Linked DNA regions of Homo sapiens. The protein of the gene in region 3 purifies or fractionates together with the protein of the main gene of each other region. This does not show direct contact. Each region holds a gene or a part of one and is shown on either strand. Other genes may lie near its edges.

The links.
Region 1: the proteins of GALNT16 (region 3) and RMND1 purify together in Homo sapiens (affinity purification with mass spectrometry; 2 studies listed by BioGRID and IntAct, with this or other methods). This does not show direct contact.
Region 2: the proteins of GALNT16 (region 3) and PBXIP1 purify together in Homo sapiens (co-immunoprecipitation; one large-scale study listed by IntAct). This does not show direct contact.
Region 4: the proteins of GALNT16 (region 3) and SAAL1 purify together in Homo sapiens (co-immunoprecipitation; 2 studies listed by BioGRID and IntAct, with this or other methods). This does not show direct contact.
Region 5: the proteins of GALNT16 (region 3) and IPO8 purify together in Homo sapiens (co-immunoprecipitation; 3 studies listed by BioGRID and IntAct, with this or other methods). This does not show direct contact.
Region 6: the proteins of GALNT16 (region 3) and PRKAR2B purify together in Homo sapiens (co-immunoprecipitation; one large-scale study listed by IntAct). This does not show direct contact.
Region 7: the proteins of GALNT16 (region 3) and ARHGAP17 purify together in Homo sapiens (affinity purification with mass spectrometry; 2 studies listed by BioGRID and IntAct, with this or other methods). This does not show direct contact.

Annotation. Positions count from the first base shown.
Region 1 is NC_000006.12:151,404,262-151,407,126, reverse strand, and holds the end of RMND1 (required for meiotic nuclear division protein 1 homolog), read left to right. Parts: intron 1-1,290; coding exon 1,291-1,407; intron 1,408-1,859; coding exon 1,860-1,892; 3' UTR 1,893-2,365; downstream 2,366-2,865. UniProt on the Homo sapiens protein: Required for mitochondrial translation, possibly by coordinating the assembly or maintenance of the mitochondrial ribosome.
Region 2 is NC_000001.11:154,949,600-154,953,099, forward strand, and holds part of PBXIP1 (pre-B-cell leukemia transcription factor-interacting protein 1), read right to left. Parts: intron 2,323-3,500; coding exon 2,196-2,322; intron 1,937-2,195; coding exon 1,872-1,936; intron 1,799-1,871; coding exon 1,633-1,798; intron 1-1,632. UniProt on the Homo sapiens protein: Regulator of pre-B-cell leukemia transcription factors (BPXs) function. Inhibits the binding of PBX1-HOX complex to DNA and blocks the transcriptional activity of E2A-PBX1.
Region 3 is NC_000014.9:69,322,658-69,326,157, reverse strand, and holds part of GALNT16 (polypeptide N-acetylgalactosaminyltransferase 16), read right to left. Parts: intron 1,467-3,500; coding exon 1,368-1,466; intron 822-1,367; coding exon 754-821; intron 197-753; coding exon 131-196; intron 1-130. UniProt on the Homo sapiens protein: Catalyzes the initial reaction in O-linked oligosaccharide biosynthesis, the transfer of an N-acetyl-D-galactosamine residue to a serine or threonine residue on the protein receptor.
Region 4 is NC_000011.10:18,092,583-18,096,082, forward strand, and holds part of SAAL1 (protein SAAL1), read right to left. Parts: intron 1-3,500. UniProt on the Homo sapiens protein: Plays a role in promoting the proliferation of synovial fibroblasts in response to pro-inflammatory stimuli.
Region 5 is NC_000012.12:30,685,870-30,689,369, forward strand, and holds part of IPO8 (importin-8), read right to left. Parts: intron 22-3,500; exon of another isoform or gene 1-21. UniProt on the Homo sapiens protein: Involved in nuclear protein import, either by acting as autonomous nuclear transport receptor or as an adapter-like protein in association with the importin-beta subunit KPNB1.
Region 6 is NC_000007.14:107,159,705-107,162,311, reverse strand, and holds the end of PRKAR2B (cAMP-dependent protein kinase type II-beta regulatory subunit), read right to left. Parts: 3' UTR 501-2,607; downstream 1-500. UniProt on the Homo sapiens protein: Regulatory subunit of the cAMP-dependent protein kinases involved in cAMP signaling in cells. Type II regulatory chains mediate membrane association by binding to anchoring proteins, including the MAP2 kinase.
Region 7 is NC_000016.10:25,005,370-25,008,869, forward strand, and holds part of ARHGAP17 (rho GTPase-activating protein 17), read right to left. Parts: intron 1-3,500. UniProt on the Homo sapiens protein: Rho GTPase-activating protein involved in the maintenance of tight junction by regulating the activity of CDC42, thereby playing a central role in apical polarity of epithelial cells.

The DNA.
Region 1 (2,865 bases), on a different chromosome or scaffold from region 3:
GCTGGAGTGCAGTGGCATGATCTTGGCTCATTGCAGCCTTGACCACCTGAGCTCAAGCAATCCTCCCACCTCATCCCTGCCAAGTAGCTAGAACTACAGGCACACACCACCATGCCTGGCTAATTTTTTTGTAGAGACAGGGTTTCACTGTGTTGCCCAGGCTGGTCTCCAACTCCTGAGCTCAAGTGCGCCTCCTGCCTCAGCCTCCCAAAATGCTAGGATTACAGGCATAAGCCACCGAGCCCAGCCTAGTAAGGCAGTTTAATGCTATGTGCAAAAATCGTAACATGGTGCAGTTAACGCATTCCAATCAACCCCTGAACACGTACCTGTGATTCATCTCTTAATGTTCACTGACCAAACCTGTAACTTCAGCATACCCATGAGACAAACTGTTTTAAAATTTTGCTTTCAGGATTTCCAGTAGCAAGTGATATATAAAGATATTAGGTAGGTATTTAACAGTTATCACATCCAGGCCTGGCACGGTGGCTCACGCCTGTAATCCCAGCACTTTGGGAGGCCGAGGCGGGCGGATCACAAGGTCAGGAGATCGAGACCATCCTGGCTAACATCATCTCTACTAAAAATACAAAAATTAGCCGGGCGTGGTGGCGGGCACCTGTAGTCCCAGCTATTTGGGAGGCTGAGGCAGGAGAATGGCGTGATCCCAGGAGGCAGAGCTTGCAGTGAGCCGAGATCCGCCATTACACTCCGGCCTGGGCGACAGAGGGAGACTCCATCCCAAAAAACAACAACAACAACAAAAAAAAAAGTTGTCACATCCAAATTTTGAATTCAGGGACTTTATTTTCTTTGAACCCCCACAGCCAGCTTGTTTGGAGGCATCGGAATGCAGAACTGTTGCAGTTCAGTTGAAAGCAATGCCATCTAGTGGTGTGTGTACAGCAGGTCAAATGTTAAGCGTAGATTTTCTAGTAGAAAGTAAATTATCTTTAGGTCTTGCTAAAAAACATTATGTTTCAAGTTTGCCTCTTTTAACTGCTAAAAAGGGCAGCTACTAAAAACTAGGACTCAAAAACCTATTTTTAGTTCTTCCATCAAAATCTTACAAATAGAAGAGCTTCAGTATGCAAAGTATTTCTTGCAGTTAAATTTGTACATTACAAAATGTCTCTGGACGGATTCACAAGAAACTGATAATGTTGGTGGCTGCCTTTGGGGAGAGGACTGAGGAGCAGGATTTTTCACTGTATAGCTATAGAATTTTTATGTGTATGACCGTATTAAATTGTTTAAATACATGTTACTGAAATTTTTCTTACATAGGTCATGAATGAAAAACTTCAGCACTGCATGGAACTAACAGATCTAATGCGGAATCACCTGAATGAGAAGAGGGCACTCCGCTTGGAGTGGATGATTGTCATCCTCATTACCATAGAGGTAAGATGGAAATGCTCTGTACTATGATCAGTTACCATCTTTTCACAAATACAGGGGCTATGCTAATAAGATAGTTTGAGATAGAAAATTATTAGCAGAAAAGAGGCTGACTTTGTTATCATTACTAACTCTATTTGGAAGTTTCAAATTACTATTTGCAAATGCATTAAAAGTAATTCTTGAAAAGGTTCCACTTTTTAAAATTTGAGAGTAGACCTCAAGGTTCTGCTTTTAAAGACAGCATTTGGAAAAAGTTCTAGCTGTAAATTTATAATGTACAGCTCAACATCAAATCAAGCACCCGTACCTCCAATTCATAGGTTGCCACGTGAGAAAGGGCAAACATTTACCTTACTTCAGGAGCATTTCTCATTAATCACAATCTTGGAAGTCATTTTAGTTTGTACCCATAATTTGCCCGTCATGAAATAATTCTCACTTTCTATTCTAAGGTAATGTTTGAGCTGGGACGAGTATTTTTCTGATCAAGTGATAACCAAAGTGTCACTGCAAGAGATATTCAAGTTCTACAATCAAAAATTAAATGTTCGGCCCGGCGCGGTGCCTCATGCCTGTAATCCCAGCACTTTCGGAGGCCAAGAAGGGTGGCTTGAGATGAGATCAGGAGCTCAAGACAAGCCTGGCCAACATGGTGAAACCCCATCTCTACTAAAAATACCAAAATTAGCCAGGTGTGTTGGCACACGCCCGTCATCTCAGCTACTCAGGAGGCTGAGGCAGGAGAATCTCTTGAACTTGGGAGGCGGAGGTTGCAGTGAGCTAAGATCACACCACTGCACTCCAGCCAGGGCAACAGTGAGACTCAGTCTCAAAAATAAACAATAAAATAAATAAATAAATGTTCACTACTGGGTGATCATTTAATAGGTGTTTTTTTAATCAAGAAATTATCTTTTTCAGCCCAGTATATCGTGTGAATAAAATTATGAAGAATCTAGTGTTTGTATCTACATCACTGACAATTCAAAAGGTAAATATTTCAGTTAAGAACTTTGGAAAACTAGCATCTAGGAAATCTTGGCAAATCTTGGCAGATACTTCTTAAAGTCACAGGACTTAGGTTTTAGACACCACAACTTAACCTATCCCCAGGGAATCCCATCATGGCCCTGGCTAAGAGAATCATACAGGAACTGAAGTGTTTAAATCAATATATACAGGCCGGGCGCGGTGGCTCACGCCTGTAATCCCACTTTGGGAGGCCGAGGCGAGTGGATCACAAGGTCAGGAGATCGAGACCATCCTGGCTAACATTACACGGTGAAATCCCGTCTCTACTAAAAATACAAAAAATTAGCTGGGTGTGGTGGCAGGCGCCTGCAGTCCCAGCTACTCAGGAGGCTGAGGCAGGAGAATGGCATGAACCCGGGAGGCGGAGCTTGCAGTGAGCTGAGATCATGCCACTGCACTCCAGCCTGGGCATCAGAGAAAGACTCC
Region 2 (3,500 bases), on a different chromosome or scaffold from region 3:
ACCTCCCATACCTGGAACAGTGTTAACTGATCATGGCACCTGGCATGTTCTTTAAATCCTTTTCCACACAGTGCTCCAGGCAGACCACACCAATCAATCACAGGTGATACCATGTATGTTTCATGTACCATGTGGAACAGGTATGCCAGCCCTGGCCCAAACCTTAGCACAAGGGATGTGAACCAAGAACTGGGAAGACGCCCTGACTATAGTGGGAGAGGGGAGGGTCAGGATGTGTGGGTAAATAGGAAACATTCCTTTTGGGGGAGGATGCTAGGACAGACGCCTGGCCTAGGTGGGTTACCCTAGCCCAGCCCCTCCTGCCTGTGCCTCCCAAAGTGTGAGGATTACAGGTGTGAGCCACCACACCCAGCCTATTTTTATTTTTATTTATTTTATTTTATTTTATTTTATTTTATTTATTTTTATTTTTTGAGGCAGAGTCTACCTCTGTAACCCAGGCTGGAGTGCAGTGGCACAATCTTGGCTCACTGCAACCTCCGCCTCCCAGGTTCAAGCGATTCTCCTGCCTCAGCTTCCCAGGTAGCTGGGAAGTAGCTGGGACTACAGGCGTGCACCACCACACCGAGCTAATTTTTGTATTTTTAATAGAGACGGGGTTTCACCATGTTGCCCAGGCTGGTCTCAAACTTCTGACCTCAGGTGATCCACCCACCTTGGCCTCTCAAAGTGCTGGGACTACAGGCGTGAGCCACTGCACCCTGCCGCCTATTTTTATTTCCTTTAGAGACAGGGTCTCCCTCTGTTGCCCAGGCTAGAGTGAAGTGGGATGACCATGGCTCACTGCAGTCTTGAATTCCTGGGCTCAAGCAATCCTCCTACCTCAGCCTCCCAAAGTGCTGGGATTATAGGCACGAGCCACCATGCCTGGCCCAGGTCTGCATCATCTTTGCCTGACCACTGCAGTTGCCTCCTAAATGGCCCCCAGGCCCTCCATCCTGTCACTCAACAGGGACCAATTCCTACACTCCTCTGCCACAAGCCTGGAACAGAGCTCCTTAGCACAAGACAGGTGGTCCCCACTCCTTTGCTGATGCTGCAGCCTTGGCCTAAAACATTCTCTTTTCCCTGCCCTACGTACCAAAAGCCTACTCTGTGCTCAGGGCTCCACTCAAATGTCACCTCTCACTGTCCCAGCCTCTCCCTTGCCCTCAACCAGTCCCCTGACTGAATGGCCTCTCCTTCCTTTGGGAGTACCTTAATTACAGTTCTGTACCACTCTTAGGTCTGATATGCACCTTGGCTCAGTCTGATCTGCCGCTTACATAGGCGGTAACCAACCATCTTCCCTCTGCCCAGGCCCAGGGCCAGCACAAGGAAGGGACTCCAGAAATGAGGGTTGAATTCTGGAAGCAAGAAAAGAGGAGGTCCCCATGGCAGAGAGGAAAGAGTCAACCAGATGTGGGCCCTGCCCCTTACCAGCAGTGTGACCTTGGTCAAGTCATTCAACCTTTCTGGGCCTCAACGTCCCAGGGGTAGTGGTGAGAAAGGAGAGCACCAAGCTGCTCAGCCCTAGGGCCTGGACCACAGCATGTGCTCAGTAGTGATGGCTGATCCCTCTCCCATACCTTCTAGAAGGAGAGTGACAGGAGAGGCAAGGAAGACTCTCACCTGCTTTGGGGGTTGAAGGCAGGCTCTGTGGAGGGCTCTGGCCTTCCAGGTCCTGTGTGTCTGGTCCCAGGCCTGTCACCACGGTGGTCTCCTGCAGGTCTCCCTGGACTACTGTGTCTCCTGGGCCAGGAGGCTCCACACCACAAACATCACCTTCCAGGGTGCCCTAATGCAGATGCAGCAGTGAGCAGCTGCTAGCCCTCCCCGCCTCCCTTCCTTCCCACAGCAAATCTCCTCACCTTGACCTCAGTCTCCTCTGTTAGAATGCTGCCAGACTGAGGGCTTTCAGTCTGGAAGAGCGTCCCTGCGGTAGGAGAAAAGGCGCAGAAAAACCCACTGCCCCAGCTGAATTTCCTTTGCAGCCCTCTGTCCATCCCACGGGCCCCTACCAGGTTGGAAGAGGCAGGAAAAAGCCAGGATGGAATGAGAAAAGGAGTTTGTCAACTGAGATTAATGGAGGAACTAAAACGAACCAGCCTCCCTTTCTCTGAGGAAACTGAGAAACCCCAAAATATGGAGAATAGCTTTGTCCGGTAAGCTATGTCCTAAGCAGGGCCCAGTACCTTCTCCATCCATGGTCCCAGCTAATTCTTTCCCATCTGTCTTGGAGGGGCTGTGAGGGGCCTGCAGGGCTCTCTCAGATTCTGGGTCCATCCTGGATGCCGGGCCCAGTGTCTCCACTGGCAGGCTCTGGGAGGAGAAGTGCAAGGAGAAGGGCTGCACCCAAGAATGGGGCCCCAGCCCACATCCCAGAAACACACACATTCAGTCATGAGCTGGCCCAAAAAGGGGCTCGGGGCAGCACCAAGTGCTCGGCATTCCCCAGCCTCACTCACTGCGAGGAGGAACTTTCAGGGGCCAGGTTTCCGCTACACAGCGCCGCACCACCAGACCAAGGCACTGGTTGCAGTACAAACCTGGTGCCCCGCCTCCAGAAGGTGAGCTAGAGCCTACGTTTCCCTCCCATCAAGATCAGCAGCACTTCCTTCCCCACAGATGAACAACCCAGATATTATAATATTAAGGGTGGGAAGAAGGCAAGAGAACAAAGTCCCCTGGGTGCCCACGGGTCACAGTTATGCCTCCCAGGGTGTCCCTGCAGCTGCCCTCTCAACTGGACAACTACTTACATCTCTCAAGCCTTTCTGGCCTTTCCCGCTGGCCCCTGACACTCCCCCGACACCCGTCTCCCAGCAGCTGCTCACAGAAGCCCAACCCACCCCAACCACAGACAGCCTGTCTCCAGGGCACTCTCAGCCTGGACATCCAGCCCTGGCCACACAGCCTCGGCCTCCTCCCTCTGCCTACTCCCCTTCCATAGGGCCCTGGCCTGCCACCCGCCCCGTGGCTCCAACTATCCCTCTGAGAGTAATGCTTCACCTTAGTTATGTCTTTGCTATTTTCAAAACATTTTTATTCTCATGGTCCCCCCTACAAGGCAAAAATCATGACGCCCGTTTTACAGGAGAGGACAGAGAGGTGAAATGGCATGCCCAAGGTCCCCCAGCTGTCAACAAAGACACCTCAACAGGAGGCCAGGGCTCTGAGAGCCTGGTGCCCGTCTGCTCATACCTGCCTTCCCTCTGCCAGTGAGCCCCAGTCCATTATCTTGCTCCAGCGTCATCCCCAAGGTCAACTCCTTACTCCCAGCTGGGTTCCTCAAGGGCACCTCAAACTCAACATGTTGAAACTGAGCTTCTCTCCTCCTCCCCTCCTGGTGGCTCTAATATACAAAGTCGCTACGTCTTGGAACTCTCAGAGATGCCTTTGACAAATTTTTGCCATCCCTTCTCTAGCCACTCAGTTCCCCATCCTGCCAACCCCCTTCTCCCTCCTCAGTGGGCTTCTGCCCCACCAGCTGCTACCTG
Region 3 (3,500 bases):
TGGTCTCAGCCATCAGGAATGCAGCAGGACCATGTTGGCTTGGTGTGCCACGGCACCAAGAGAGAGTGGGGAAGTGCACAGGATGACACCAAGATGGGCCCTTGGTGGGACCCAGGGTGCAAGGACTCACCTTCCCGCCGATCATTGCGCAGGCACTTGACCTTGGGGATCCTGGTCAGGAGTAGACAGTCTTCCGCTGAGGATGCAAAGAGGAAGGCAAGCTCATTTAGACATGGGCATCAGGCCACTAGTGGTTTGGCTGCCATGAAAATTGCCCCATACTAAGCCCAGGAAAGGGTTGGGGATGGGGATTGGGAAGAGGTATGGTCATCACTACTGGCCGAAGGGTTGCCCTGCCCCACTCTCAGGCCAGACTGAGGAGTGCCTGTACCTATGGCAGTACTCCACTCCACCTCAGGGAGCACTAGAAAGCACGCTTGGGGGTGGCTACCAGCCCAGCTATCATCTGCATTTGGCAGTTGTAATAATGAAGGATGCTGTTGATTTTCTTTACTTTTTAAAAACAATATCATCTCACTAGAGTCCCATCCAAAGCAACACCCACCCTTCTTTCCCCTCCTTTGACACCAGGGAACAGGACCAGGGAGGGGTCCTAGAAAAGACAGGATCCCTGCTGGGGGCAGAAAGGTGTCTGCGATGGTCAGGACAACCTCAGGGTGCTTGCCTTGGTGTTCTGGGGAAACAGGGACGAGGGCGGAATGGAGGGCTGCAAAAAGGAAGGTGACTACTCACGATCTGAGCTGAAGTCATCCACTAAAATGATCTCCTGGATCAAGTTGGCAGGAGTTCGGTTCAGGACACTACAGTAGCAGTGGAAACAGAGAAAGAGCCTGGATTTAGGAACCACCTCCCATTTTTACCACTCCCGGGGCCGTGGGACTCCCCAGCCGCCCAGCTCCAGGGCCAGCATGCTGGGCGCTCCTACCTGAATCCTATTCTTGTCTAAGTTCATTGAGGAAATGGGGAGATGGGAGTTCAACTTGACCACAAGCCCAGGCTTAGCAGGAAGAATCCACCTCCAATCCACCTCTCTCTGACACTGACAGACACTGCTGGGCTTCCATCACCCTCCTGAGGCCTCCTGTCTAGCCCGGCCTCCCTCAGCTCCTGACACCTGCATTTCTGCCCTTGTCCTGGACATCTGACCTGGTGTTTGACTGTCGCATTCCTCTAACAGTTTGACTTCTGGGGTCTTCCTGGCCCTGATTCACCAGTCTCAGCCTCTCAGAAGTACAGGACTCAGCCTCCAGCACCTGCTGGGCTTCAAGCTGTCTGGCCACAGCGCCCAATCCCAATGTCCTCCCCTGCCAGCACCACTGAGATGAGAGTCCCATGGCTGGACTTACCTCTTCACTGTGCGCAGCAGGGTGGAACGGGCCTCATTGTGGAAGGTGATGATGACGCTGGTGGCTGGCAGGTCCGAGGAGTAGGACACAGATGGGCAGCTGAGAAGGGAGCACAGAGGTCAGAGCCAGCCATGAGGGCATCCTCAGGGCAGGTCAATGTTTTTCTTTGTCCAGTCTTGTGCCTGAGAATACTTCTGCCAGGCAGAGAAGGCACACCAACAGCCAGGCCAGAGGCCCCGCGCCTCCACCCCCATGCTGCATCCCACACTGGCCCAGAACCCCGATGCCACCCATCCTGGGGTCCTGGGAGGGAAGCAGCAGGTTGGGAGACCTTCCAAGGCCTGGGGGCTCTTTACCAGAGATCTCAGAGCCCCCAGAGGGGGCTCCCTAGTATATACAGATACTGCACCAGGCCCCAGGATACAGCCCTGACCACACTCTGTCGTATGGTGGGGGGTATGTGCGAGAGGGAAAACTACCTCTGTTTGTCCTGATACCCTAGAGTTTCTTCCTTCTCTCTTCCCAGCTCAGGACATTTGGTAGAATCTGCAGAGGAATCACCCCTACCCTGGCTGCCAGGGAATTCCTCCCTGTCACTGCCCAACACTGACAGCCCTGCTGCAGACAACAAGCTGGGGAGCAGTCTCACTCCTCCCAGGGTACTGGGTCCCCTGGAGGAAACAAGCCTCTGTTAAGACACCAAAGGCCTATCCCGTCACTTCCTCCCTCCCCAGCCATCCATAGACACCACATTTTCTGGCCTACTGGCTCCCTCTCCTCTAGAAAGGGAGTGAAAACAATTCATTCCTGCCAGACTTCATCCCTGTTGTTTCTGCGTATGCATTTATTTGAGCTCCTGGGGTGCTGGAAGGTGGCCTCCGTTGCTGGTTTTCATAGCAATCTTCTTTATTACAATTGCTCTCTGACTATTCCACCAGTGCCCGTTTTTTCATTGTGGCATTCATTCTACTGACAGCAGCTTACAGCCCGAATTCCCAGGCCTGTTTCCTGCCCTGCAGAGCAGACCAGGTCAGACAGGCAGGAGTCCCACTAGCCTGGGACCCCCCTGGGGGAAATCTTGAGAGGCTGTGCAATAATTCTCCTTGAGAGGGGGTGTAGGGTAGTGGTGGCGGAGGGAAATTTGCCTTCTACCCCTTGAGAAACCATGCTGTTCAAGGGCCTATGAATTGTGGGGGAGGGAGTGAGCTTGGCCGGCTGAGCTGGGGTGTGCTGGGAGCAGCAAATACCTCCTAAGTGTGCACCCTCCCAGTGCTGACCTCCAGGGCCCCAGTCCTCTGTCCTGATCCCCCAACCATCCGGTGCCCAGAAAGGAGGGAATCGGGACAGTGACGTCTCCCTGAAGGGGGCAAACCCACCCACACCCCATCTGAAGGGTGAACTTGACCTCCCCACCGGCTCCCTCCAGCCCTTTCGGCATGCATGCCTCTGGGATTGATGTTACTTAGCATGGGGGTTTATCTGGCTCCCAGGAGCCAGGAGCCTCTAAAGGGGTTTGTCCCAGCCCTGAGTTTTGAGTTTGGAGCTGATGGGGTTTTCTCTGTGATCCTCCTCGGCCTGTCTTATGTGGTTTATGTCCCTTTGCTCCCCTGGAGCGGGCTCCCTAGATTGAGGCTGGACCAGAAATGAACCTGACAATTTGGAGTCCAGCGGACACTACAGCCTGCAGGGCTGCAAGGAAGAGCAGCTTCTACCAGCAAACTGGCCCCACCATGGCAGGAGGCCTGCCCACTAAAGCCAGCACGTCCTTTGCTTCCCTACACGTGTGCATGCGTGCGCGCGTGCGCGCGCACACACACACACACACACACACACACACACACACACACACACACACACACACACACCCCGTGAGCCACCTCAGCTTTCTTTTTTCTTTTTTGAGACGGAGCCTTACTCTGGCACCCAGGCTGGAGTACGGTACTGCGATCTTGGCTCACTGCAACCTCTGCCTCCCAGGTTCAAGAGATTCTCCTGCCTTAGCCTCCCGAGTAGCTGAGATTACAGGTGCCCACCACCACACCCAGCTAATTTTTGTATTTTAGTAGAGACAGGGTTTCACCATGATAGGCAGGCTGGTCTTGAACTCCTGACCTCAAATGATCCACCCACCTC
Region 4 (3,500 bases), on a different chromosome or scaffold from region 3:
AATGATTGATAGGAATGAGATATGCAAACAAAAAGACAGACATTCAAATAAGGGGAAAGTATCAGCAAAGGCAGGAAGGGAATCATGTACATGGCGAATACTGTAGACAATAAAGTACTCTGGTTGTGGCACAAAGTGGGTGAACAGCATGAGGTAAATACTGCAGGTATAAAGGACTGAGATTAAGGGCTCTGAATGCCGTGCTGAAGAATTAGACTTAATCTGGGAAGTTATTTGGAATCATGAAGATGCTCAAGGAGGGGAGACAACATACTGAAACAGTATCTTAGGAAGATTACTCTGGTGGCGAAATGCATAATGTATTAGTGTAGTCCCTCTTTATCCATGGTTTCAGTTACCCATGGTCAACCTTGGTATAAAAGTACTAAATAGAAAATTCTAGAAATAAACAATTCATGTTTTAAATTGCATGCCTTTCTGAGCAGCACGATGAAATCTTGCACCGTCTCACCCAGGATGTGAATCATTCTTTTGTTCAACATATCCACACTGTATGTGCTGCCTGCCCATTAGTTACTTAGTAGCCATCTTGGCTATCAGATCGACCATCGGGATATCTCACAGGGCTTGTGTTCATGTCACCCTTATTTTACTTAATAATGACCCCAAAGCACAAGAGTAGTGATGCTGGCAATTTGGATATGCCAAGGAGCCGCCATTAAGTGCTTTCTTTACATGAAAAGGTAAAAGTTCTTGACTTCATAAGAAAAACAAACAAAAATGTATGCTGAGGTTGCTTAGGATCTCTAAGAACAAATCTATCCATGAAACTGTGAAGAAGGAAAAGGAAATTTGTGCATATTATAAATAGGGTTCAGTACTATCCTCGGTTTTAGGCATTGGGGGCCTTGGAATGCAACCCCCAAGGATAAGGGGAGACTAGTGTATAGGGAAAAGAAGTTGAAAAGAACTTAAGAATCTATCTCAGTAATAGTTAATTAATATGTAATAACAGTTTATTACCACTCACGGTGGCCAGGCATTACTCTAAGCATTTTCTGTGTATAATTTCATATAATAACTTAGGTGATAGGTACTAATAGTATCCCCATTTTTTCAGATGAGGAAACTAAGGCACAGAGAAGTTAAGCTACTTGCCTAAGATCTTAAGATCTCCAACTAGAACACGGCAGAGCTCCAGAGCTTGAGCATTTAACCACTATTCCAAACTGCACCTCAGTTATCAAGATGCAAGAGGAGGAGGGCCCTCAGGCATGGAAAAGGATGAAGCTGAGGAAGACTCTCAAGGTGAAAGCAAAATAATCCAGTGTGAGGATAAAGGAGAAAGCAGTTGAACTTGACTCCTAGCTTTCAAGTTGCCTCATTTCCCCATCAGTGATATTGGTCCCGTTGACAGGAAAACTAAAAAAGAAAGTGCATAAAAGGCTACAATGAGTTCAGATGGTACAGTGTTTCCAACCTTGCTGGAACATAAGAATCACTCAGGGAGCTTGTTAAAAATACAGATTTCCAAATCTCATCTCAGATCTACTGAATCATAATTTCCAGGGTAGAGCCTGGAAAGCTATTGTTTACCCAGCATATACCAGGTGACTTTTATGATTAGATAAGTGTGACCATAAATCACTGAGGACATACAGAATTCAGGGTTAGAGAGTACAGCTGACCCTTGAACACAGGTTTGAATGTGTGGGTCCACTCATAGGTGGATTTTTTCTAACCAAACTTGGACTGAAAATACAGTGTCCTCAAGATGCAAAACCTGCACAATATGCAGAGCTGACTTTTCATACACACAGGTTCCACAGAGCTGACTGCTAAATTGAGTATGTGTGGATTTCAGTATGGGGGAATGTCTTGCAACCATCCCCCATGTATACCAAGGGACAACTGTAGAGCGTGCAAGCAGAGAATGCCTGAACAAAGTTGGAGATGTGACATCAGTTATCAGAAGGGAAGTCGAGGCTTTGCTCCTACAGGCAGAGTTGCAACTTAAAGGTGTAAAGAACACATAAGTTCACTAGGAAAATGAATATAATGAGAACAAAGGATCAGGGCCTACACCTTAGAAAAAGTCCATATTCGGGACAGTATAAAAAAGGAAGAAAGAAAAAAGCCAATGAAAGGTGAGAGACGAGTGACTGAAGAGGTCAGAGACGACAGTGAGGTGACACAGGAGCTATAGAAATGGAATTTCAATAAAAAGTGGGTGGTCAAATGTTGGGAAAAGATTAAGAGTGAGTAGGGGCAGAAAAAAACCACATACATTTCCCTTATAAACTAAAGAGGGAATAACTGAACTTCCAATCAAAGATCAAGTTTTTCTTGGCTGTTCACTGGAATCACCTGGGGAACTTTAAAAGCTGCCCAGAGTCTCACACTTGGAGATTCTGCTTTAACTCATCTAGGGTATGGCCTGACCAAGATTTTCAAAAGTTCCCTAGGGTAAAGCTTCTCAGAGTGTGGCAATGCACCAGAGCACCAGCATCACCTGGGAACATATTAGGAATCCTGGACCTACTGGACTAGAAACTCTGGAGGGAGGCTCGGCAATTAGTGATGCGGGGACATGCTTAAGTTTGAGAGTCCCTGTCCCAGGTGATTCTAACATGCAGCCAAGGCTGAGAATCACTGTGGCAGCAGACGGTGGCCAGCGGATATAATACAACAATATGACTAATTCCTAAAAGGTGCCATTCCTGACATAAGCTTATTTCTTTATATACTAGTAGTGAGTAAATATATTTAAGACAGAAAAACTCAGTATAAAAATAGCATAATCATCAAATCTTATATTAATATAAGGAATCAAGGAAAAAACGGTTAATCAGGCCCTAATTCAGAGAGAACATTCTACTTAAATAAGAATTCTAATTCAACATTCAATTTGTAAAAATACACTATGGAATTCTCCATTTTATAATCTGAAAGAGAGGAAATACAGTACAGTGGTTATACTGAAGTCAGGCCTAGGCTGAAATCTCAGCTCCATTCTTTCCTAGCTGTGTGACCCTGAACACATATCTTCACCCAAGATTTAGTTCTTTGAAAGTATACCTCATAGTAGTAAGACCAGGTATTCAGTAAACAGCAGTTTTTCATAATTATAATTATTGAACAGATATTTACTAATCCATGATATGCATAGCACATGGCAATTTAATTGGCAATAAAGCACAGTACACTGCACAGTATATAAAGGCCTCTCCTTTAGTCTTTATCTATTGTTCTTGGCAGTTTACTAACAGCAATGACTACTGAAAGCTTACTTACTTACTTGGGAAGGTGTGGAAGGAAAAGTACCACTGTGAATTAACAGATGCAAATACTGAGAGGGGACAGAAGGCACACAAAGGGAGGCACGGAGACAGCATGAGACAGGGAGTAGAAAGGTCTGGCTAAATCAGAAGGGTTACCTGGCTATCCAGATTTTATGCTGGAAAGATGAGTTAGGTTCAGAGAGTAGAGGTCTTAAGCAGCAGGCTGAGTTTAGAATGGTTTTCAAGCAATGGTGGATT
Region 5 (3,500 bases), on a different chromosome or scaffold from region 3:
TGCAGCCAGGGCAACAGAGCAAGACTCTGTCAAAAAAAAAAAAAAAAAAAACTAAATTGGGTAGTCAAAGCACTATACCATAAAGAATACACCAATACATTCTACATTAGCTAAAACTTAAAAGAAATTTAGTGAAATTATGAACTTGACATCTGGTAAGCTCCTCTTTCATTAGTTTTGAGTAGCTAAAGTTCTGAAAAACTGTTCCATCTATGATTTCAATTCATTTGGGTGAAAACAAAAATTATATAAAGGGGGATGTGTGTTAGAGTTTTCTTTTTTCCCTTACTTGTTTTTAATTCAGACCACACAAGCTCTAGACTAGGTACCATGTTTTATCGGGTATAGTCATTATATTATGTAACAGTGACTGGCAAAGAGTACACATTCCATAAAAATGTATAGACTATTCAAAAAATAATGAATGAATGATCTAAGGATATGAACCAACCTGTCAGCAGTTCAGACTGATTTCACAGGATTTAGGGGTTTTTTTGAGACAGGGTCTCACTCTATCGCCCAGGCTGGAGTCCAGGGGCACAATCACAGCTCACTGCAGCCTCCACCTCCAGGGCTTAGGTGATCCTCCCACCTCAGTCTCTCAAGTAGTTGGGAATACAGGCGTGCACCACCACGCCAGTTAATTTTTTTGTATTTTTGTAGAGACAGGGTTTCGCCATACTGCCCAGGCTGGTCTTGAACTCCTGGGCTCAAGTGATCCACCCACCTCAGCCTCCCAAAGTGCTGGGATTACAGGCATGAACACCCAGCCTGATTTCACAGGATCAATCTTTGCAAAAAGAAAAATCAACTATATTAGTCACAAAATCATTTTGATCCCTATAGAACTAGTCTTGAAAACAAAGAAAAGCAACCTTTAGACAGTAAAAATACAGACACGGTAAAATCATGGACTTATTTATGATTTAGTCATTAAATACTATTAATATTAATTTTATAAATGAAAAGTTATAATTTAAAAATTATGGTGCATCAAACGAGACAGCCTTTAAAAAAGGCACACTGACTAATTTGTATATGCCTAAATAAATGTACAATGAGGTAAAATAAAATTGAAAATATATTAAAAAGAAAATTTTAATTACTATGATGGATAATTATGGATTACTAAGGATAAAGGAAAAATACCAAAGATAACTGTTACCATATCAACCAATAATCTGAAAACTTCCCTTTAATCATTTAATTCAAGTGCCTAAATACAAACCATTTGCCAGAACTAAGAAACAAAGGACTAATATCATGTTAATCCAATTCATAAAGGAAATATTAAATTTACTGTATCTGTCTGGGTGTCTTAGAGCATCCTTGTATTTTAATAATAGATTAAATAGAGCAGAAAATCTACAAATGGCACTTAAATTTAGGATAGTTATAATGTAGAATTTTATAAATGTATTTCAGATTCTATGATAAAAATGGCTGCTCTAAGACAGTTTTCCTACAAAATCCACTCACCATTTTAAGCATCATAAGTTGAAATTAACTTTCTAAAAACACACACACACTTTTCTCCTTCAGCACAATGAATCATCACTTAAGCTCTGGACCCAGAGACACAACTACAGAATCAATTGGGTTTCATAACCTCAAAGTGGAGAAAGTACTGTTATCTCGGTGGGCAGAATGTCATGCTTTTGAGTTGATGTTTCTAAGTCTTGCTGTTTTTCATTGTAATTTTGTACCCCTTCTCTCCCTTATTACTCTGTGAAAGGCTAGATTAGACAACAAATGTGTCAATTCTATCAAAACAATATTAAATAGATTCTGAGCACAAGCCACAAAGCTTTCTACAAATAAAATGCATGAATGTTAATAAAAGCTTCTTAAAGTGCTTCTGGACTGATCAGAGGCATCTTTCTGTTTATTTCTAGGTTCTGCACTCTGCAATGCTGACGTCAATCTTAACAAATAACCTCTAAACAAATAACCACAGAATGAATTGTTATATCTTCTCCCTGTCCATCCTTTGGAAATACAAACAAAAAGAAACAACAAGGAGCAGGCAAACTTATAGAAATCAAAAACCATGCTATTTTTTTAAATGACAGTCCCACATCTGTCACCACTGATGACCTCTTCAGGTCTAATACCTCTCAACCACCACTTTTAAATCCAAACTACTCTCTCCTTCTCGTAGCAACTCCAAAATGCACTGAAAAAAGTACATTTCTGAGCCTAAATTTACATATATTAGAGAAATTTTACTAAAGAGTCTCTTCAGATGTAAGAAGTAAAAAATTAGAAACAAAAGTGATTTGAAATTCCAGATCATAACTATCCTAAATTTAAGATAGGCTTCCTTCACCGCACATGATAATATTAATAATGCTATTATGCTTATCAACACCTCAAAAGAAAAGCAGCAGACCAAACATTCAAATTTTTTTGTTTTGCTTGGCAACATCAAAATACTTAATTTTTTCCTGTTTCTTGAAAACTCACAGTAAGGTAAGAAAGGACATTCACCAGTGAGCACGCTTGATGGTAGCAAGAACACTTTAGATTGCCCACAAGCAAAAGAGAAAAAGTATTTTGCAGATGTATTTCCACTTAACATTAGCATAACTTTTTTTTTACAGCTTTATACAGGCTTTCTTTTAAAGCAAAAATCACAACATTCTTTTTTAAGTGTCATGCTAAAGATAAATTATCTTTCTAGGTGTCTTGGAGCATCCTTGTATTTTAATAATAGATTAAACAGAACAGAAAATTTATAAATACCACTTAAATTTAGGATTTGAAATCTAAATTATGAAAAAACAAATTATGAAGAAAAAAATGCCTTTCAATGCTGTTTACATTTTACATCAAAACTTCATTAAGTTGTACAGAGTTGGTGAGGATTTGGGGAACCTAGCATTCTAATGCACTGTTGGTAGAAAATGTAAGCAAAAGCAACTTAGTGAGAAGATTCTAAATTCTAAATGTCATAAATATCCATTAGCCAAGCATTTCCCCTTGTTATAACTTATTCTATAAAAACACTCCCACAAGTACCTAGATACATATCAAATGACACTCATTTAGCATTGCTTCTATCAACAATGAAAAAAAGACAATAAGCGAAATGTCCATCAATATCAAATCGTTTAAGTAAACCATGGTAATTCTTATATAAAGAAATACTGCACAGCTGTTATAAAGAATGAAGTATCTATATGCACTGACTTGGAGCAATCTTCAAGGGTACATGGTTAAATGAAAAAAAGGAAACTGTAAAATAGCATGTGTAATATAAAAAAAAGAATTGGAGAGCCACGCATCAAAGCTGATGGCAGTCATCTTTGGGTGTATTAAGAACAATGTAAGTTATAAACTGTGTTTTTCTAATGTTTCCATGTCATTAAAGGAAGACATTAATGTAAAAACTTGTTTTAAGATCTTTTAAAATGTTATTTCTTAAATGCTTCATAGGAACTTTACAATGGCCCTATAAACACTTAGGTTTTTAAAATAGGTTCCATTCAACAAAATGT
Region 6 (2,607 bases), on a different chromosome or scaffold from region 3:
CAGCTAATTTTTGTATTTTTAATAGAGACGGGGTTTCACTATATTGGCCAGGATGGTCTCGATCTCTTGACCTCGTGATCCTCCTGCCTCAGCCTCCCAAAGTCCTGGGATTACAGGCATGAGCCATGGTGCCGGCCTTTTAAAGCATTTTAAATGGCATTTAGCCAGAGTTTATAATACTAATCCTAATGGTAACACATATACATTCACCTAAGTTGTGTCACAGGTAACGTGTATGTTAAAATATCTGCACTAAGCCCTAGTACATATGGATATGTAGAAAACAATACACACACACATACATACACACACACACACACACACACACACACCTTTATTTAAAATAAGGGAAAGCACCGTCACTCTTGGGGAAAAAGTCCTCACCCCTTTCCTTAGCCACGCATGATACACGAGAGGCTCTGTCCTTGAATGAATGGTCAACAGAGAATTCTCACATAGTAAGGAGTGTTGATTAATAATTAAATAATGACATCCACAAGTCAAACTTGAGCTGTTTTAATCAGATAATTTTACACATAAATTCCTAGTTAGCCAGATTGATTTGGTTATTCTAAATGGCCAAATAAATCTGCAACACACCACAATTATTTCTCCCACACATGATGAATAGCTAATAATTTTAAAAACCTATTGCCATACAGAACCATACTTTCTTACTATGTTATGCCCTGGGGGTTCGCTTCCACATGCCACATTGCTATCATGCTTTTCAATGAATTATGCATTATGCACGTCAGAAAACTTTAAAGAAACAAGCAAAAAAGTATGAAAAACAATAATTCATGTATTTTATTATAAAAGTGTGCTTTATTGTAAGGAAAATTTAAATATAACCAACAATACTGAAAATAATGTACGTGGCATTTATAGCCTTGGTCAAAGTTCTTTATTAAACAGGCGTTTGCTGTTCCATGAATAGTTAACAATTAGTTTATGCAACAAAATAGATAACTTGAAAAAGTGAGTAAGAATACAGAATGATGAACCAGGAATCTGGAGTTCTTTTGTGTTTTTTCTTGTTTAACAGACATGGCTTTTAAAATAAAATCTGAAATATAAAACAAGTCATCTTCATGTAGAGAGCTCTCTTTTCCTACAAGAAGGTTTTGCAAAAATGTTAAACAGTGTTCTAAAAATGTGGCTGAAGTTATACTTTACATACTTTAACTTCTTATATATACATTATCCAATTAACATTCTAACCACATTTTCATATACAAGTGGGACCATAAACATTCTCTAGTAAGACTACACTAGCACAGAGTAATTTTACCCATGTATATATATTCATTTGAAACCTGTTTCCCAAAATGAAATCACTCATTTAAAAGCAAACAACTGGTTAGAATTAATGTCTCTAGACACTGGGTCATGGGGCCTAGAAATCATGTAAGAGTATATTGCTTTGGTTGAATATAATTAAATTCATCTTATGTGGCAGCATACTGAGCATATCAATGAACAATGAAAATCTAGTACATCTGAGTTCTTTCTGCACTAATTTCAACTATGAGTCTACATTAAAGCAATGGCAAGGCCTAATGGTATATATGGTAAGGTCAGAAATTCATTTTGTCTTTATATAGGGTTATGCTCATAAAAATTTGTTTCTATTCCTCTAGAGGATGTTTTTAAGAATTAAAAAAACCAAACAAACCCATATTGGCTGCTGATCAATGAGATTGTGGGTTGGCAACCATCCTAAGAAAGAACGGAAACCCAAGGGAACAGATGTCTACATAGGACTGTATTATGCAGGCCTAGTGAAGAACAAAGAAATAAACTGTGGGCATGCTGATAAGGATCCCACATTATTTTTGGGATAGGAGAGATTTTTTAGGTGTAAAATCTTAAAGAATACAAAAAATGTCGGATCTTAAGTTTAAATCACTTTTTAAAAAAACAAAACTTTGTGACATTAAATGTCAAGATCAAATTTTTAAAGACATAGAATACAGAGAATTGCAAAATAAAAAAAAGCAGATATATGCTTGATGAGGGAAAAATGCATTAATGATCTCTCATCTAAAACACTGTTTTCCTTATTATCATAATGACTAAATTGCCTGTCCATAAAACCACTGGAATATGTATGTTACTGACATTATGCCAACAAAGTCAAAATGTACTTTATTGCAAAAATATAAAAAGTTTTAAAACTGCATATGATATTTTATACCATTTCACCAATAGGCCAAGGCCAGCACATAACTTATCAAGCTAGAAAACTTTAAAACAAAAATGATTAAAATTTTACTGTGTTTAATGAGTTATAAAAAAAAGTGATGCCATGCTGTGTAGCATGTTTAATTGCCAAGTGCCCTCTTACATGGGGATAGTCACTAATATGATTATCAGTCTGAATAAGTAAAACACATATAGCCTATGATAACATCCTTTAATTATCTTCTTAAACACAGATACTTTCTATATATTACAATCATTTTAATAAACCTTTCAGTCATAATTTTGTGGAGTACAAAGTCATTTTATCAGTATGTTGATTTTTTTATGAACTACTCTTTAGAAAGTGATGTTAAAGCCTATTGACTATTAAATCACTACTGTTTATTGATACGTTGTAAA
Region 7 (3,500 bases), on a different chromosome or scaffold from region 3:
GAATGTGCAAGGTTTCATCACTGTATCTGTTGAGGAACATATCTATGAACAAGAATGCTAACTTGTTTATATTAAAGTACATAAATACATCAAAGAATGGCATTAAGATTTCATTAACAGCACCTAAGATCTGCTAGAATAGATAAAACTGGTTACATTCAGATTATCTGTTTGTAGCTCTGTCTCCACATTCAAGTCCCCAGGGATCAATTATATTTTTAACCCCAGCCCCTATCATTTGACAGGTTCTCAAGAGACATTTGTTGAACTAAATTGGTAACTGAGCAATGAAACTGATAACTAAACGTTAATTCCATGACAAACAAATGACACATACAGAGAAAACTCATATAAAGAAATACAAATGTAAGAACACATTCATTTTGAACTTAGTGGAAAAAATTTAAATAGATAACAAATTTTTTAAGGACAATATCTAATGCAACTAAGGTGATGGTGAAATGTGATATTCATCATGTCATGCATAATGACACACATTATTGCGCAACATCACTTTCTGCACTACAAACTAAATGACGGCATTATCATCTTAGGAGACAACCTGGCAATACTGTCATGATATAAACATTAATTTCCTATAAATCTAGTGATTCTAACCTCTAGAGAATTCATCATGAAAAAGTAATTTAGAGGTGAGCAGCTATAATCATTAAAATGGTGACCGACCATGTCAAACAGAAGGTTGGGGAATTGTAGATACAATCCAGCTCAAGCCAGCTCAAGGCAGCAAAGCCAACTGGAAGACAAATTTGACTCCAAGTGAAAAATAATGAGCACCTAATTAAGGTAACAGGAAGGATGGCCTCTGGGAAGCAAAGATGAAGTCAACAGATAATCAAGGTCAGTTCCAGACCAGCCTGGCCAACATGGTGAAACTCTGTCTCTACTAAAAATTAAAAAAAAAAAAAAATTAGCCGGACATGGTGGTGTGCGCCTGTAGTCCCAGCTACTCAGGAGGCTGAGACAGGAGAATCGCTTGAACCCGGGAGACAGAGGTTGCAGTGAGCCGAGATCATGCCACTGCACTCCAGACTGAGTGACAGAGAGGGACTCCGTCTCAAAAAAAAAAAAAAAAAGAAAAAGATAATCAAAGAGGCAGAATTTCCAGTCTCCTCACCTGACTGAGATGATGGAGGAAAAAGAATGGGACTGACAGGTGACTAGGGAGGGTGTGAGGGCATTTAATGCCCTAGGGCAGGGGTCACATGCTTCTTATGAAGTGCCAGAGGATAAATACCATAGGCGTTGCAGGCCATATGGGTCACTGTTGCAACTATTCAACCCTGCCACTGTAGTGAGTGGCTGTGTTCCAGTAAACTTTTTCACAAAGCAAGCGGTGGGCTGGATTTACCCTGCAGGCCAAAGTCTCGTGACTCACAGACTAGAAGATAGAGGGAAATGAAGCCAATTTGAGGAAGAAGTTCATGGGTTCAATTTTATCAGGCCATGTCAGCAGAGATTTTTCAAGAGAGAGATGATAGCATCATTCTAGGGATAAAGAGACCCCAGGGCTGGAGGCATAAAACTGTCACCATGAGGTGATAGTTATGGGGCTGAGATCACCCAGGGGAACGGTCTGAGAAGAAAGGAGATCGAGGACATTTCTCTGTCGCAATATAACAGTGAATACCCAATGTTACTTCAGATCACTATGGCCCTGGAAAGGAATGAACATTACAATCTAACCTCTTTTAACTCCTACTTTTTAAAAAGAGGGCTCCTATTTTTGAAGTGGGGCTTTCAGTCCCTTTTCCAAGATAAATAAGTTTAAAGTTTCAAATTTACAGATGAAAATTTCCTAATGGCTAGAAAATAAGGCAATGCTAAAATAAAGTGCTTATCAACTTCTTTAGATTTTTATTATGAAATATTTTATGTGCAAAGAACATATAGTGTGTATGTAAAGCATAATGAATAACAATAAAGCAAATGCACCCATCCATATCTCAAGAAAGTAGTTCATTACGAATGCCACTGACAAATTACTTATTTAGAGACAGGGTCTCACTCCATCACCCAGGCTGGAGCACGGTGGCAGGATCACAGTTCACTGCAGCCTCGACCTCCCAGGCTCAAGCGATCCTCCCACCTGAGCCTCCCAAGTAGCTGGGGACTACATGCACATGCTACCATGCCTGGCTAAACTTTTTGCGTGTGTAGAGACAGGATCTTGCTATGTTGCTCAGGCTGGTCTCAAACTCCTGGTCTCAAGTGATCCTCCCACCTCAGCCTCCCAAAATGCTGAGATTACAAGCATGGGCCACTGCACCCGGCTCACTGACAACTTTTCATACCACAAGCATTAGTCTCTAAACTACAAATGAAAGCAGGCAGCCCACAGCCAGATAATGCTTTCAGATGTTTTCTTTGGCCAACAGTGGGTTTTTTTCTTTTTAGTTGCCAACATTTAAATATCAAGAAACTTCACATGAAAATCAGCATTCTGGAGTATCATCAAAAATGGAAGATGTAGCTTCACTACTCCCACGTTCACCATGGCAACAAGTGGCTAGAACTGAAGAGCAGCTCTCCCCTTTGAATGAACATGTATTCACCAGTTCACTGCAGTCCCCACATTCCCTACTGTCCTATACCCGCCTCCCATTTCACTTATTTATTTTACCCAACCTGGCACTTCGGTTTGTGACCCCTGCTTATGTGATTGTGGTTTCCAACCTTTGGGAATATGGGAAATATTATTTACAGTAAAAAAATTTAACAGACTCTCAATAGGTATATAACTAAAAGTAAGACAAGTCCACAATCCCTATCACCATTTTGTAATCCAAAAAGTTCTAAAAAACAAATCTTTTTTTGTAACTTATTTGGCAATAAAAGTTGACCTGAACTGATATTAAACTATGCATAATCTTCATGCATATCCATTCAGTGGGAATATATGTATATATATTTTGCTATACTAATGTTTGATTATGGGATTTTGTCCCAGACCCCACTGGAAGTATTACATAACAACAATATATGCATATTATTACTTTTAGAAAAATCTGAAAAATTCTGAATTCTAAAACTTATCTGGCCCAATGATTCCAGATAAGGGACTGTGGGCCTATTACACTTTTAATCCCTACCTTTAAGAAAATACAAACACAGCGAACAGATGAGAGTTTAACATTTTTACATGGATTTGTACTTCACTAGTTACTACAGCATCTACCTACACTTGAGAAACTGAAATAGAATGATAAAGGTGAAACATCCTGTGGTCTGACAAAAATGCACGGTGCACGTACTGACTGCAGCGCCCTAGGCCATAATCAAACTTGGAAGGTTTTGCCTCGTCCACTCTGCTACAAAGGCAATTCCATAATAGCGTAACATGCCGCTTACACATATAAAAATGATGCTAAATGAACATATCCTTTTATGGTTCAAATTTACAGATGAAAATTTTCTACTGGTTCATCATTTTTATGGTTTTAGAGTTCATTTCTTCCCCCCAGTAAAGAATGGATTTT